Regions from separate parts of the Homo sapiens genome. Here region 2 is linked to region 1. Evidence: fine-mapped expression QTL. Tissue or cell type: whole blood. Region 1 holds a variant in brackets; the other region holds the start of a gene. All regions are shown on one strand. Distances are from middle to middle.

Region 1 (8,352 bases):
TTTTTGTTTTTTGTTTGGTAAAGATGGCATTTCACCATGTTGTACAGGCTGGTCTCAAACTCCTAGGTTCACTTTGGCCTCCCAAAGTGCTGGGATTACAGACATGAACTGCCAGGCCCGGCCAAAATAATGCACCACTTTTAACAGAACAGACAGATGAGGACAGAGCTGGTGATAAAAAAAAAAAAAAAAAAGCATTTTCTAGATACCACTTAACAGGTTTGAGCTAGTTTTTTTGAAATCCAAAGAAAATTATAGTTTAAATTCAATTACATAGTCCAGTGGTCCAACTATAATTATAATCAAAATCAATGCAGGTTTGTTTTTTGGTGCTAATATGACATATGACAATAAGCCACGAGGTGCAGTAAGTACCCGACTAAAGTTTCCGTGGGTTCTGTCATGTAACACGACATGCTCCACCGTCAGGGGGGAGTATGAGCAGAGTGCCTGAGTTTAGGGTCAAGGACAAAAAACCTCAGGCCTGGAGGAAGTTTTGGAAAGAGTTCAAGTGTCTGTATATCCTATGGTCTTCTCCATCCTCACACCTTCTGCCTTTGTCCTGCTCCCTTTTAAGCCAGGTTACATTCTAAAAATTCTTAACTTTTAACATAATATTTTATACCAAAGCCAATAAATGAACTGCATATGATAGGTATGAAGTACAGTGAGAAAATTAACACCTGTGAGCTCATTGTCCTACCACAGCACTAGAGTGGGGGCCGCCAAACTCCCATGGCCAAACCTGGTGCACCATTTGCCTTTGTTTGTCTGTTGGTTTGCTTGAGACAGTCTTGCTCTGTTGCCCAGGCTGGAATGGAGTGGCTATTCACAGGCACAATCATAGCACACTTTAGCCTTAAACTCCTGGGCTCAAGTGATCCACCCGCCTCAGTCTCCCAAGTAGCTGGGATTACAGGTGCAAACCTGGCATGCCTGCCATTGTTTGGCTTATGATCTAAGGATAGCTTTTTAAATTTTATTCATTTTATTTTTTTTTGAGACAGTGTCTCACTCTGTCTCCCAGGCTGGAGTACAGTGGTACAATCTTGGATCACCGCCTCCCAGTTTCAAGTGATCTCCCTGCCTCAGCCTCCTAAGTAGCTGGGACTACAGGTATGTGCCACCACGCCTGGCTAATTTTTATATTTTTAGTAGAGACGGGGTTTCACCATGTTGTCCAGGCTGGTCTCAAACTCCTGACCTCAGGTGATCTGCCCACCTCTGCCTCCCAAAGTGCTGGGATTACAGGCATGAGCCACCATGCCTGGCCATTTCTTACACTTTTGTATGACATGCCTATTGCAAGCTTGCGTGCCTCTGTCCCATGTTATTTTACTCTGGGATTTAGGTGGAGGGAGCAGCTTCTATTTGGAACATTGGCCATCGCATGGCAAATGGGTATCTGTCACTTCTGCTCCTATTTAGTTGGTTCTACTATAACCTTTAGAGCAAATCCTGCAGCCAAGCCAGGCATCAATAGGGCAGAAAAGTATATTCTGTAAATAGGGGTGAGGAGAAGATATTTCTGAACAATAGTCTACTGCAGTACCAAATTGCTTTTCAAAGTGGCTGTTCTAATGTACTCCCGTCAGTCATATAAGTGTCATGTAAGTATCCCATTGATCCACATCCTTGCTACCCTCTGGTACTATCAGGTGCCCTTAATTTTGCCAAGCCAGTGGGTATAGAATGAGATCTCACTGTGGTCTTAGTTTGCATTTGCTTGGTTACTGATGAGCACCTTGTCAAATATTTATATACCATTTGTGTTTATTTTTTTAAATAAAATGCTTGCTCATGCTTTTTTGCCCATTTGCAAAAAAACTTGGGGCCGGGTGCAGTGGCTCATGCCTGTAGTCCCAGCTCTTTGGGAGGCCAAGGTGGGCAGATCGCTTGAGCCCAGGAGTTCGAGACCAGCCTTGGCAACATGGCGAAACCCTGTCTTTACAAAAAATACAAAAATTAGCCGGGTGTGGTGGTGTGCACCTGAAGTCCCAGCTACTCAGTAGGTTCGCTTTGAGCCTGGGAGGCAGAGGTTGCAGTGAGCTGGGACCGCATCACTACACTTCAGCCTGGGCAACAGAGAAAAACCTTTTCTCAGAAACAAACAAACCCAAATGTGGTTGTTTGTCCTGATTCCTAAAAGGTCTTTATGTATTCTAGATAATAATCTTTGGTCAGTTATATGTGTTAAAAAATATCTTCTTTGTGGCCAGGCACGGTAGCTCACACCTGTAATCCCAGCACTTTGCGGGGCTGAGGTGGGTGGATCATCTGAGGTCAAGAGTTCAAGATCAGCCTGGCCAACACAGTGAAACCCCATCTCTACTAAACATGTACAAAACTTAGCTGGGTATGGTGGCGGGTGCCTGTAACCCCAGCTGCTCCAGAGGCTGTGGCAGAAGAATCGCTTGAACCCAGGAGGCAGAGGTTGCAGCGAGCCAAGATTGTGCCATTGCACTCCAGACTGGGTGACAAGAGTGAAATTCTGCCTATCTATCTATCTATCTATCTATATCTATATATATATATATATATATCCTTTGTAATTTATTTTTCCCTTTTTAAAATTTTTTATAAAATTCTTTTTTATTTTTATTTTTAGCAGAGGTGAGGTTTCTGAGGTTTCATTATGTTGCCCAGGCTGGTCTTGAACTCCTGAGCTCAAGTGATCCTCCCACCTCAGCCTTCCAAAGTGCTGGAATTGCAGACATGAGCCACCGCGCCCCTCCTGTTTTTCTCTAATTAATGGTGTCTTTCTTTGTCTTTCTGGTAATAAGCAAAAAGTTCTTCATTTGATTTGGTTAAATTTATAACTGTTTTCTCATATGGTTAACATTTTTTCTTGCCTGGCTAAAGAAATCCTTTTCTGCCCAATACTATAAAGAGGTTTGCCCACATTTTATTCCAAAAGTTTTAAGTTTTGTCTTTCATCTTGAAGTCTAATGTATCAGGAACTGGCTTTTGTGCCTGTTGGGAGGTAGTGATCCAATTCCATGTCTTGCATGTAGGTAACCACTGGTCCCTGCGCCATGTATTCAATACGTCGTCTTTCTCCTGCGGGTCTGCAATCTCACCTACCATCCATCAAGTTTCCATAGGGCCATGGGTCTGCTTCTGGGCTCCCTGTTCTGTTCCATTGTCAATTTGTCTATCCTGTGCCAGTATCACACTGTGTTTATTACAATAGCTTTGTAACAGCTCTCGATATCCGGTAGGACATCTCCCTCCACCTTCTTTTTCTACTTCAGAAGTGTCTTAGCTAGGTCAGGCACGGTGGCTCACGCCTGTAATCCCAGCACTTTGGGAGGCCGACGCGGATGGATCACCTGAGGTCAGGAGTTTTGAGACAGCCTGGCCAACATGGTGAAACCCCATCTCTACTAAAAAATACAAAAATTAGTCAGGCATGGTGGCATGTGCCTGTAATCCCAGCTATTTGGGAGGCTGAGGCCGGAGAATTGCTTGAACCCGGGGGGCGGAGGTTGCAGTGAGCCGAGATCGTACCATTGCACTCCAGCCTGGGTGACAGAGCGAAACTCTGTCTCAGGAAAAAAAAGAAAAGAGATGTCTTGGTTATTCTTGGTTCTTTATTATTCAATATAAATTTTAGAAGCTGAATTTGAAAAGATTTGGATTGGAATTTCATTAAATCTACAGGTCAATTTAGGGAGAGTTGATAATTTTACAGAATTGAGTCATCTGGTGTTCCAATAAGAATAAGAGAACAATTATTGGCTGTACAATTCTTGCCAAATAGTAGGCAAAGCAAAGCTTAGGAAGTATACTGGTGCCATTTCAGGAACAAAGCTAGGTGCGAATATTTTTGTCTTTCTGAATCATGATGCTGTAAGTTCTAAAGTGATTTCTCCTCTTGGCTTTGGACACATGGTGTTTAATTACCTACTGCTGACTATCCACAAACAGAAAGAGACTGGTCATGCCCCACAGGGTTGGGGTATCCAAGATAATGGAGCGAGGCTCTCATGTGTCCTAGGTTACACACCGAAAATCCACAGTTTATTCTGTGAAGAAAGGAGGCTATGTTTATGATACAGACTGTGATATTTTTATCATAGCCTATTCTGGTATCATGTGCAAAAGCTATAAATGAAAAACACAGGAACTTGGCATGTGAGTCATTGCTCCCCCTAAATGACAATTAATAAGGAAGGAACATTGAGACAGAATAAAATGATCCCCTTCTGGGTTTAATTTAGAAAGTTCCATAATTAGGTTTAATAGAAATAAATGTAAATTTCTATGATTAAAAATAAATTAGCACATTTAGGGATACACAAATTATAAATCATTTTCTAAATGCTAAAAACAAGCTCAGGTTTTTTTCAGAAGAAAGTTTTAATTTTTTTTCTTTAGTGGAAGATATCACTCTGACGGAAAGTTTTGATGTGAGGGGCGGATGACTATAAAGTGGGCATCTTCCCCCACAGGAAGATGTTTCCATCTGTGGGTGAGAGGTGCCCACCGCAGCTAGGGCAGGTTACATGTGCCCTGTGTGTGGTAGGACTTGGAGAGTGATCTTTATCAACGTTTTTATTTAAAAGACTATCTAATAAAACACAAAACTATGATGTTCACAGGAAAAAAAGAATAAGAAAAAAAGACCTTATTTTAAAAAGCTTTTTATAACTGTTGCAACATCATATCATAAAGGGTAATCATGAAATAAGGTGCCATTCTTTGTAAACTTTGGCTTTTAGTGCCGAAGGATGCTAAAGATTTCCAGTATGAGATTCCTTTTGCTTTCAACAATTGACTTATTAGTTACATAAAAATGGATGCTGTTGATCGGGTGCAGTGGCTCACACCTGTAATCCCAGCACTTGGGGAGGCCAAGGGGGGTGGATCACCAGAGGTCAGGAGTTCAAGACCAGCCTGACCAATATGGTGAAACCCTGCCTCTACTAAATAATACAAAAATTAGCCGGGCGTGGTGGCATGCACCTGTAATCCCAGCTACTTGGGAGGCTGAGGCAGGAAAAT[C/G]ACTTGAACTTGGGAGACGGAGGTTGCAGTGAGCCAAGATCCCACCACTGCACTCCAGTCTGGGCGACAGAGCGAGACTCTGTCTCAAAAAAAAAAAAAAAAGAAGAATGCTGTTTTTGGCCAGTCACAGTGGCTCACACCTGTAATCCCAGCACTTTGGGAGGCTGAGGCGGGTGGATCACATGAGGCCAAGAGTTCAAGACCAGCCTGGCCAACATAGTGAAACCTCATCTCTACTAAAAATACAAAAATTAGCCAGGCATGGTGGCACACGCCTGTAATACCAGCTACTCGGGAGGTTGAGGCACAAGAATCACTTAAGCCTGGGAGGTGGAGGTGGCAGTGAGCTGAGATCACACCACTGCACTCCAGCCCGAGAGACAGAGTGAGACTCTGTCTCAGGAAAAAAAAAAAAAAAAAAAAAAAAATGCTGTTTTCCCAGCTTGGGCAACATGGTAAAACCCCATCTCTACCAAAAATACAAAAAATTAGCTAGGCATGGTGGTGCATGCCTGTAGTTCCAGCTACTTGGGGGGCTGAGGTGGGAGGATCATTTGAGCCCAGGAGGTCGAGGCTGCAGTAAGCCATGAATGCACCACTGCCCTTCAACCTGGATGACAAAGTGAGACCTTGTCTCAAAAAAAAGAAAAAACTGTTGTTACATCAATATTGATTCAGATAGCTGTATTTAAAATTCACTAAGCCATTGAAGCCTTTCAAACAACTTTTCCAAATTCATTGAAGAGGCAGATTCTGACACATTCATTGAAGATGCTGACTATTGGATCCAAATGACTCCTTCACTGAACTAGCAGCCATCCAGGTGTCTACTCTGCACCAGGAACCACATCAGGACACAAGCACAAGGATAAAACTCACTTCCCACCTGGAACTTTCATTCTAGGGGAATGACATGTCTAACCTGATAAGATCCACACATCCACATGATAAGGTAAAACTCACTTCCTGCCTGGGAACTTTCATTCGAGGGGAATGACATGTCCAACGTGTTAAGATCCACATTGGGGTACAAGATGCTTTCTCTAAGAGGAATCTTCATTCAACACAACGCCACCAGGCACCAAGCACCATGGATGGACGGCAAAAGGGGAGTGAGAGCAGCTGCCCTCCTGGTGCTCACGGTGGCGGGTGGGGGGGATGTGGGGAAGGGGCAGCTGTGCACCAGGGAGCTCCGCTGGGAGGCAGGGGAGGGAGGGATGGAGTTGGGGGACGGGGAGGGGGAAGGGGGAGGGAAGGGGGCGGGGGAGGGAGGGGGGAGGGGGGAGAGGGAAGGGAGGGAAAGCGGGATGCAGAGGAAGCGATGCCTGTCCAGGCAGTGTGCTTCTCAGAAGGAGCCATGGGCCCAGGCACATGGGAGGGAGAGTTGGGGCTGGGATTGAGGAGAGGGGAAGGAAGCCACAGGGTGAGCAGGGACCAGAGAGCCAGATTTTATAAGTTATATAAGAAACTCAGATTTTGGCCGGGTGCAGTGGCTCACACCTGTAATCCCAGCACTTGGGGAGGCCGAGGCGGGCGGATCACAAGGTCAGGAGATAGAGACCATCCTGGCTAAGACGGTGAAACCCCGTCTCTACTAAAAAATACAAAAAATGAGCCGGGCGTCGTGGCGGAGGCCTGTAGCCCCAGCTATTCGGGAGGCTGAGGCAGGAGAACGGAGTTAACCCGGGAGGCGGAGCTTGTAGTGAGCCGAGATCGCGCCACTGCACTCCAGAAAAAAAAAGAAAAACAAACAAAAAAAAAAACCCTCGGATTTTAGTTAGAAGCAGTGGCTCACCCTGTAATCCCAGCATTTTGGGAAGCCAAAGTAGCAGGATCCCTTGAGGTCTGGAGTTCAAAACCAGCCTGGGCAACATAGTGAGATTCTGTCTCTTAAACAACAACAAAAAAAAAACAAAAAAAAAGCAGCTTTGATTTTAACATGTGGTCACTAGGAAGCCAGTGAAGAGATTTGATTGGATTTGCCTTTTAGAAAGTGCTCCCTGACTGCAGGGAGGGTGTAACTGAAACGCGGGTTAGTCACTCACTTGCAGACTCCGATTAACAAGAGCGAGGTGTGGTATGAAGACAGTGATTTATCCCAAAGCTAGCTTAGGGGAAGAAATACAGGTGTCCTATCTTAAGTGTCCCGCTTCACCTTTGGAGCAGAAAGACGGCACGTTGAAAAGGCAGGGGAGGAAGTGAGCAGGGCCGGGCGTGGTCTGCAGGCTAGATCTAGTGCTTTATCTACTGGGCGGCTGAGCTAGAGACTGCCGGTGCCTTCATGGGCAGGACTAGGCCGAAAACTCCCCAGGTAGGACAGAGTCCCATATCTCTCACGTCTCTTGGTGGGAGGGAGTTCCGAGGCAACCTCCTGGAGGGTGGGAGTTCCGTAGCAGGCATGCATGCTTTGGTTTGTAAATCGACTATTAGCTCTTGAGGAGAGTCTTGGAGCACAGAGTTAGAGGAACTTGCCCTCTATAAAAACAAAAAAAAAAAAAAAGAAAAAGCTATACTTGCATTTTAAAGGGCAAAGTAGGAAGTGGGGAACCAGGGGAATGAGAAAAGGAGAGAGAGAGAGAAAAAAAAAATAAACGATTTCTTAGAAAAATGGGGGTACGTGGTTACAAGTGAATGGAGACAGGAATACTGCAGAGGGGACTGCTGGCTCCTGGCAGGGCAGAGTGAGAAGTCCTGGGATGGAGCTTGGGGAGGGAGGAGAGCTGTTCCAGGGACAGCTCTGGACTCTGTGGGGGCCCCAGTGGAGGGCACATGAGGTCACAGGCAGAGCCAGAGGGATCACCGGAAGTTGGGAGTTCGAGACTAGCCTGGCCAACATGGTGAAACACCGTCTCTACTAAAAATATAAAAAAGTTAGCCGGGCATGGTGACACACACCTGTAGTCCCAACTACTCAGGAGGTTGAGGCAGAAGAATCACTTGAACCTGGGAGGTGGAGGTTGTAGTGAGCTGAGATCATGACACTGCACTCCAGCATGGGCAACAGAGTGAGATTTCATCTCAAAGAAAAACAACAAGAAAAGGGGGATTTGCGTGTTATAAAGTTCCTGCCCAGGTTCCCAATCAGGTCTGTTTATGCAAATGAAAGACTGAAACTTGCTTAGTTTTGATTGGTTTATGCCGCTGAGTCCTCATTAGTCGATACAGCTGAGCCCTGGTTGGTGGAGGCAGGTGAGCTCCAAAAGTCCCAACATTAAGAAGGTGCTGGTTTTCAGGAATCTCAGAGTACCTGTGTGACTTCTAGTTAGCAAATGGCTAACTATTTTAGCCATTTGGCTCTATTTTAAATTTAGGCTCAGTTAGCCACTAGGGATCTATCTTGAAGAA
Region 2 (8,000 bases), 24 kb before region 1:
TTCATGCTATTTAGCCTCAAAGTATTTAGCTGCTTGAGATATTCAAGATTAGACCTATAGTCAATCAAAATGAAATAAAATCTATTTCTTGGTTTATTTATTTATTTATTTTTTTTTTATTTTATTTATTTATTTATTTTTTTGAGATGGAGTCTCGCCCTGTCGCCCAGGCTGGAGTGCAGTGGCACGATCTGGGCTCACTGCAAGCTCCGTGTCCCGGGTTCACGCCATTCTCCTGCCTCAGCCTCCAGAGTAGCTGGGACTACAGGCACCTGCCACAACGCCTTGCTAATTTTTTTTTGTATTTTTAGTAGAGATGGGGTTTCACCATGTTAGCCAGGATGGTCTCGATCTCCTGACCTTGTGATCCTCCCACCTCAGCCTCCCAAAGTGCTGGGATTATAGGCATGAGCCACTGCACCCGGCCTATTTCTTGGTTTAGAATGAGATGCTTAGGATGTGATGAAACAGATTATTAATACTGCTTAGGATGGATGAAACATATTATTAATATTATTAATACTGCTAAAGTGTTGCTGTCTTGTCGGGGTCATCTCTGATTTAGTTTGAGATGGTTTTATGGAATAGAAAAAGCTTTTGTTGCATTTGAAAGATTACAGGGCTACAATGGATAAAGCAATATGATACATGTTATAAAGCAAATGAAAATTATACCAAAAGAGTATTACACCTTTGGCTAGCTTAGATAGTATGTATATCTGGTTAACTATATAATTTGACTTAGCTTACTACGATGATTTTATACCACACAAAAATGCATGCAGTAACATGAATTCTTTTTTTTTTTTTTTTTGAGACAGTCTAGTTTTGTTGCTCAGGCTGGAGTGCACAGGTGCAAACATGGCTGACTGCAACCTCGACCTCCCAGGCTCAAGCAATCCTCCCATCCCAGCCTCCCAAGTAGTTAGAACCACAGGCACATGCCACCACACCCAGCTAATTTTTGTATTTTTTGTAGAGACAGGGTCTGGGCATCTTGTCCAGGTCATCTTGAACTCTTGGGCTCAAGCGATCCTCCTGCCTCAGCCTCCCTAAGTGCTGAGATTACAGGTGTGAGCCACTGTTCCCAGCCATGAATTTTTTAAACGCCTGAGTAAAGTTGAGCATAGCCTTCAGTAGCAGAATTCTGAAGTGGTTGACTTTGTTTAACTGTGGGCTGGCAAAACTAATGTTGAGACTCTTTTAGCTCAGTAAAGACTCTTATGTTACTGGCATAAAAGCCTGAAATAGTGAGCTAATTACTGTGCTGGGAAACTAAATATGTCACTTTCAGAGGAAGTAATGTCTCTGCCTACAGAATGTCCAAAACGTAGACTAGTGAGTAGCATTTAGTTAAATGAAATATGGCCCAGTTAAATGTCACACTGCAATGTTAAACAGAGTACCACATGTAAACAAGGAGATTACTTGGTTAGATGGTGACTTTCAAAGTGTTAGGAGGGGATCAGCAGTCCGATTTTTATGGTGTGACACTCTCACATTCAGCCAATTTCTGCCAAAGTGGGGCAAGGAGGGATCCCACAGATGTCACAGGTAAGATAACTCTCAGATGACCGTCAGTATTTGGGAACACATTTTGCAGGCAGCTCATGCGTTTTTCTCCTTTTCTGTCATGACTTGCCCTGTGGTGGCTCTACTGATGGTCAGTGTGGGAGGCAGGGAAGGAACATTTCAAACCAGTAAGTCTGATCATAGCAATTCCTACTTTCTTGAGAACTATGTGCCAAGCATTGAGCTAAGTATTTCATGCTCATCGTCTCATTTAATCCTCACTCACGAGGAAGATGTATGGTGTCACTGCACCTGTAAGATGTGCTTGCAAAAACAGAGTTAGGGAGGTTGAGAAATTTGCTCAAGATTACACAACTGAGGCAGGAGAATGGGGAACATGAGGCGTGAGAGAGCAAAGGGAATAAAAATCACTGGGAACCGGTAACCCCCCTCACCCCCGAGAGTGGCCAGGGAGAGAGAGGCTGCCTGAGGGAAGGAAGCTCGGCAGGACCCGCTGCAGACCCAGGGCCAAGGGAAGTCCCGCGGGAGGAAACGCGGGCGCGGTGGGGCTGGCTCCAGGCACGCGGGCCAAGGGCGGGAGGGTCGGACACGAAGCCACAAGGCTCCTTTCCTTCCTCCTCCTTCCCGTCTGCCTTCTTCTGCTTCTGCGGCCTGATCTCCGAGTCCCTCTGCCTGCAGGCGGCGGCAGAACGTCCGCATCTGTCCGCATCTCAGCGCTGTCCCCCAACCGAGTCGCGCCGCGTTTTCCTCTTCTGTCGGGAGAGCTCGTGCTGGGAACCGCGGGGCAGGAGGACGGCCCAAGCTACTCTCGATGTCCTTCCCCAGCCCACGCCTGCCCCAGCCACAGTTCCCCTGGTTTTCCTGAGGTTCTCCAGCTGCTCAATGATGGGCAGGTTCATCTACAGCCTGGAGCAGCCGCCTCCTCCTCCTCCTCCTCCTCCTCCTCCTCCTCCAGAAACACCCCTTTTTCCTTCTCCTCATTCTTCCTTCTCATTCTTTCTCCTCCTCACTCTTCCTTCTCCTCATTCTTCCGTCTCATTCTTTCTCCTCCTCATTCTTCCTTCTCCTCTTCCTCTTCCCCTTCTCTTTCTGTTCTTTTCTTCTTCCTCCTCCTCCTCCTTTTCTCTTTATTTTTCTCCTCCTCCTCCTCTTCTCCCTCTTCTTTCTCCTTATACTCCTCCTCTCCTCTTACTGTACTTTTTTTTCCTTCTGCTTTCTCTGCCCTCCTCTTCCTCTTCTTCTTCTTCTTCTTCTTTTTTTTTTTTTTTTTGTGGCTGGAGTGCAGTGGCGCAATCTCGGCTCACTGCAACCTCTACTTCCCAGGTTCAAGCGATTCTCCTGCCTCAGCCTCAGTAGCTGGGATTAAAGGGGTCCACCGCCACCATTCCCTGCTAATTTTTGTAATTTTAGTAGAGACAGGTTTTTGCCATGTTGGACAGTCTAGTGTCAAACTCCTGACCTCAGATGATCCATCCACCTCGGCCTCCCAAGTGTTGGGATTACAGGCATGAGTCACCGCGCCTGGTCTCTTTCTCCTTTTTTTTTTTTTAAAGAAAAATTGAAATCATGGTTTTCTAAAAATCCCTCCTAGCTCTCAGCTTCACCGAACCACGTCCTGGTCATTGACTTGCCGTGTGACTGCTGTGCTTCCCCTGTTTCCATTTCCCTCCATTTCTCCCTCCTTCCTCCCTCTGTCACCCATGCCCGGAGGAGCACGATAAGGGACCAGGCCGACCTGGGTTCCAACCCTGCCTGCTCCCTGTCCTGTTGACGCTCTAATTCCACTTGCAGCCCCACTTTCCTCATTTGCATAGTGTTCTCCCAGTAACAACAGCAGTCATACCAAGTTCTAGGGTTCTTTCGAGGATAGTGTGTATTCACCGCAGTGCATCTCTGATGCCTGGCACATCGGCTGTGCTCAAGTAATGGCAGCTATTGCATTACAGTGACTATGGAGTTAGGGGACCGCATATGGCAAAATGCTGATCACTGTTTTGAATTTGGTTTCATTCCTCTAATCTCAAATCCAGTGTTTTAAGGACATGCTAAATGCTTTGTCCTGGAGAGCTATCTTAAGGGACAAAATCGTTTTCCCAGCGTCATCTGTGACACATCCTGACAGTAGAGAGCTGCTTCCAAGAAGCAATTTGAAGTGCCATTATCAGGCAGGGACGGGGGCTCTAGGGGATTTCGGGGTCAGCAGATATGAAATGAATGATTTCATAGGGCTGTCACAGAGCTGTGGTGGGAATTTCCCATGAGACCCCGCCCCTGGCTGAGTCACCGCACTCCTGTGTTTGACCTGAAGTCCTCTCGAGCTGCAGAAGCCTGAAGACCAAGGAGTGGAAAGTTCTCCGGCAGCCCTGAGATCTCAAGGTCTGTCCATCTGGGGGAGTGGGTGGGGGCACTGAGAAGGGGTGAGATTGGAACTTTTGCTCCCTTTGCCCATTTCTAGACTTTTTCTCCTAATATGTAATAACTTCTCTTCAATAGCCCTTTAAATAAACATCAATAACTTAGCCTGAAGAGTTTTTCACTCCTTAGTTTTGTTACCATACAAACTTCACATCTCAAAACATGTCTCTGTTTAAGAAAATGTGTTAGTGAGTTGAACAGGGAGGTCTTTCCACATGTTAGTAGTTAGGTGTTCAGCTAAAGGGGGAAGAGTGATTATGTGATAGCTTCTTCTTGAACTGAATTGTCTGATGCCCCTGACAGATTCTCTTTGTAAGGAGTTTATTTCAGGGGCAATAAGTAATTGGCATTATTGCTGGTTGGTACTGCAAAGTACCTATGAAAGTCCCCAAAAGTTCTTGCTATTGTTATTTCTGCATTTTGGCAGAACATGATGGAAAATGCACCCTCAAACTTTGGCAAACCGGCACAAAGCTGTGTGTTTAATCACGCCTGCCTTGTCCTAGTGGTTTCTATGAATCTGCTACTTTTCCGTAATATTGCATCATTAATTGTTCCTGAAAAACCCTGAGTTATCCTCTTATAGAATTGTATAAGTAATGATTGCAATATAGATAATTTTGAAAGGAGAAACCACCTTTCCTTGGAAATGTTTATCTTTTGCAGAGTGACATTTGTGAGACCAGCTAATTTGATTAAAATTCTCTTGGAATCAGCTTTGCTAGTATCATACCTGTGCCAGATTTCATCATGGGAAACAGCTGTTACAACATAGTAGCCACTCTGTTGCTGGTCCTCAACTTTGAGAGGACAAGATCATTGCAGGATCCTTGTAGTAACTGCCCAGCTGGTGAGTACCCAGTTATCATGTGCATTTGATCTGCTCTGTTGGAAGTATGGTTCAGTTAGTCTAGTAGTCAGGGCTAACGAGCTCCCTTTTAAGGAAAGGAAAATGAAAATTCATTCATTTACAAATGTTTATTGGATGCTACAACCTAGCTGTGTGAACACAGCAAAGTCATTCAACCTCTTGTGCCTTGACTTTCTCATCTGGGGATAATAAGAGAACCTGTTTTATAGGATGGCTGGGAGGATCAAATGAAGGGCTTAGAACAGTGCATGGCACAAGGCAAGACTTCAATAAATGTTAGTTTTGTGTGTAGGGCTTTGTGCTCCGACTGGGGGCATAGCAGCGAGTAAGCGCGTAGTAAAGGGCTTAACAGAGTGGGGACGGTCAGTCGCATTTAAATTTTAGTGTAGGACATTGATGTCCTCCTGGATCCAGTCATATTCATCTCCTACATCAATCAAGATAATCATTTTGTTTTATTCAATAGATAAAGTATTTTCTTTCTGTTGATTTATTTGTTACAATATCTGGTTTTTTTGTTTTTTTTGTGTGTGTATGTTTTTTTTTTTTTTTTTGAGACACAGTCTCACTCTGTCGCCCAGGCTGGAGTGCAGTGGCACGATCTCAGCTCACTGCAACCTTGGCCTCCCAGGTTCAAGCAATTCTCCTGCCTCAGCCTCCCGAGTAGCTGGGATTACAGGTGTGCACCACTGCGCCTGGCTAATTTTTGTATTTTTAGTAGAGACAGGATTTCACCATGTTGGCCAAGCTGGTCTTGAACTGCTGACCTCAGGTGATCTGCCCGCTTCGGCCTCCCAAAGTGCTGTGATTACAGGCGTGAGCCACTGCACCTGGCCTGTATTTTGTTATTTCTAATTCTGTGATTACACAAAGAATAATCTTGCAAATGTATTGTTTTAGGAAGTCAATCAAACTAATGTCCACCACTGTGGCATCTAGAAAACTCATCATTCTTTTATAATCTTATTTTATTGTAAACTTCGGAATGCCTTGGGTGACGATTGCCCATTGTCAAACGTGTACCACTATTGTCTGCCTTTCTTAGGTACATTCTGTGATAATAACAGGAATCAGATTTGCAGTCCCTGTCCTCCAAATAGTTTCTCCAGCGCAGGTGGACAAAGGACCTGTGACATATGCAGGCAGTGTAAAGGTATGAGTTCAAAGATATTTTCTTCTTCTAGAAGATAGTTGGGAAGATAAGCTTTTCTTTCCCATTTACTAACTGCTCTCTTTTGAAAATCTCAAGTGTCAAAGACTGATTCTTCTGCCAACCAGCAGGTCTAGGACAATAATATCCAGTGACAGCAATTATTTGTGGACTGAGCTTTCTAAATATTAGAGGAAACATTCATTTGACAAGAGAGAAGTTTTTACTTACCTAAATGTAAAAATGTCTTTATGGAGATTTAAAAGTAAACTTTAAAATTACTGGGAACACTATAAGTAGAGTGAGCATGATTTTTACTGCAGAGCATAAATTCGCTTCCTGGATTTGGAGGTCAAGTGTAATAAAATGTTGGGGGCTGGGGGGACTTTGTAGGTGTTTTCAGGACCAGGAAGGAGTGTTCCTCCACCAGCAATGCAGAGTGTGACTGCACTCCAGGGTTTCACTGCCTGGGGGCAGGATGCAGCATGTGTGAACAGGATTGTAAACAAGGTCAAGAACTGACAAAAAAAGGTACGTTTGCGTTTCTTTGATCTAGTGTAGTTTTGTGACATAGACAAACTTAGCTTTGATCTTGATCCTTTGAAAATAAACAAACAGATTTGTAGAACCTTAAAGTAACAAGGGAGTATATGATATATCATATTTTAATTAATAAAATATTTCAATTAATAAAATATTTCCGTTATTTCTTCATAAATGGAAATAATTTGAAATCAGAACATTTGTTAATTGCCAGAACCATTAATCTTCACATGTTCCAGACATATACAATACTTTATGTACAATTAAAATAAAAACTAGCCATCTTAGGGTGTTGTTTCAAGAATTATTGAACAATTTGTGCAGATTGCATTATGGTAATGACTTATATTAAGTTCATCACAGGAAAAGTTACAAAATGATGAAAATGCTTCCCTTTTATTATTGCTTTCATTTTTAATACAAGGTTGTAAAGACTGTTGCTTTGGGACATTTAACGATCAGAAACGTGGCATCTGTCGACCCTGGACAAAGTACGTATAATTTCCTTTAGTTTATGGAATAAAGAATCTGGGTTAAATTTTTTGGAAGATAAGGAATGCTATCATTGAAGCTTTTTTGCACCCATCAAGTGTAGACAGAATGTAACATACTAATAGGCAGCGTGGGAACACTGTGAGGTCGTAGCAACTCAATAGGCAAAGTGGGCATTTTCTCCAGAAATAGTGCCTGGAACATCTAGATCAGAATTGCCAGTGGAGGCTGGGCACGTGCAGTGGTTCACGCCTGTAATCCCAGCACTTTGGGAGGCTGAGACAGGAGGACTCCTTGAGCCCAGGAGTTCAAAACCAGCCTGGGTGAGACCCTGTCTCTACAAAAAATCAAAAAATTAGCCAGGCATAATGGCACATGCCTGTGGTCCCAGCTATAGGGAAGGCTGATGAGGCAGGAGGATCACCTGAGTCTGGGAGGTTGAGGCTGCAATGAGCTATGATCGCACCATCGCACTCCAGAGCAGAGAGCCTGTCTCAAAAGAAAGGAAAAGAATTGCCAGTGGAACTTTGCCGCTGTCTGCCTCTTTTCTGTTTCCTTCTCATTCCTTTGCTGCCTCTTATCTTCTCTCATTGATCAGCCTGTCTCCATGTGTTCAATGCCAGCCCCTAGAATGATACAGAAGAAACTAACAATTGCTCGTTACCCTCCAAAATGTGGCACAGACTTGGGCACACAAGGCCATCACAGGTGGTAAAAAGCCAATAGTATACGAGAGAATGTGACTGTTGTTTTGTGGAACCAGAACTTACACTGTGGTCTGTGGATGGGTGCTGGTCCACAAATGGCTTGTCCTGTGTCCCCATCGACAGTGGTGTAGGGTTAGAGAGTAAACATTTAGAAACTTTTAAGGCAAATTGGCAGAGTAATGTGGTCTGTTGACTAAGAATAAAAATTTGGGCGTTGTATTTTATATGTATTTGTTCTTTTTCCGTTTCATTTTCTTACTAGAAAATCATTTTTATTATTTTACTTTTA

The links. PIP is the estimated chance that this variant, and not a neighbour inherited with it, causes the effect.
Region 2: TNFRSF9 starts here. The variant in region 1 is fine-mapped to the expression of TNFRSF9 in whole blood (TOPMed, PIP above 0.99).

Annotation. Positions count from the first base shown.
Region 1 is chr1:7,912,147-7,920,498 of GRCh38, reverse strand. TNFRSF9 (TNF receptor superfamily member 9) reads left to right here. Exons shown (of 8, transcript NM_001561.6): 8 at 1-4,628. It also overlaps a transcript of UTS2 not described here. Among named protein-coding and RNA genes, the nearest start is that of TNFRSF9, 25 kb to the left of the region's middle. The variant C/G (reference allele first, on the strand shown) is at 5,008.
Region 2 is chr1:7,936,693-7,944,692 of GRCh38, reverse strand. It overlaps TNFRSF9 (TNF receptor superfamily member 9), which reads left to right and starts at 3,854. Exons shown (of 8, transcript NM_001561.6): 1 at 3,854-3,909; 2 at 4,615-4,798; 3 at 5,865-5,972; 4 at 6,363-6,500; 5 at 6,937-7,003. The coding sequence starts at 4,699. RefSeq lists a silencer at 2,011-2,150.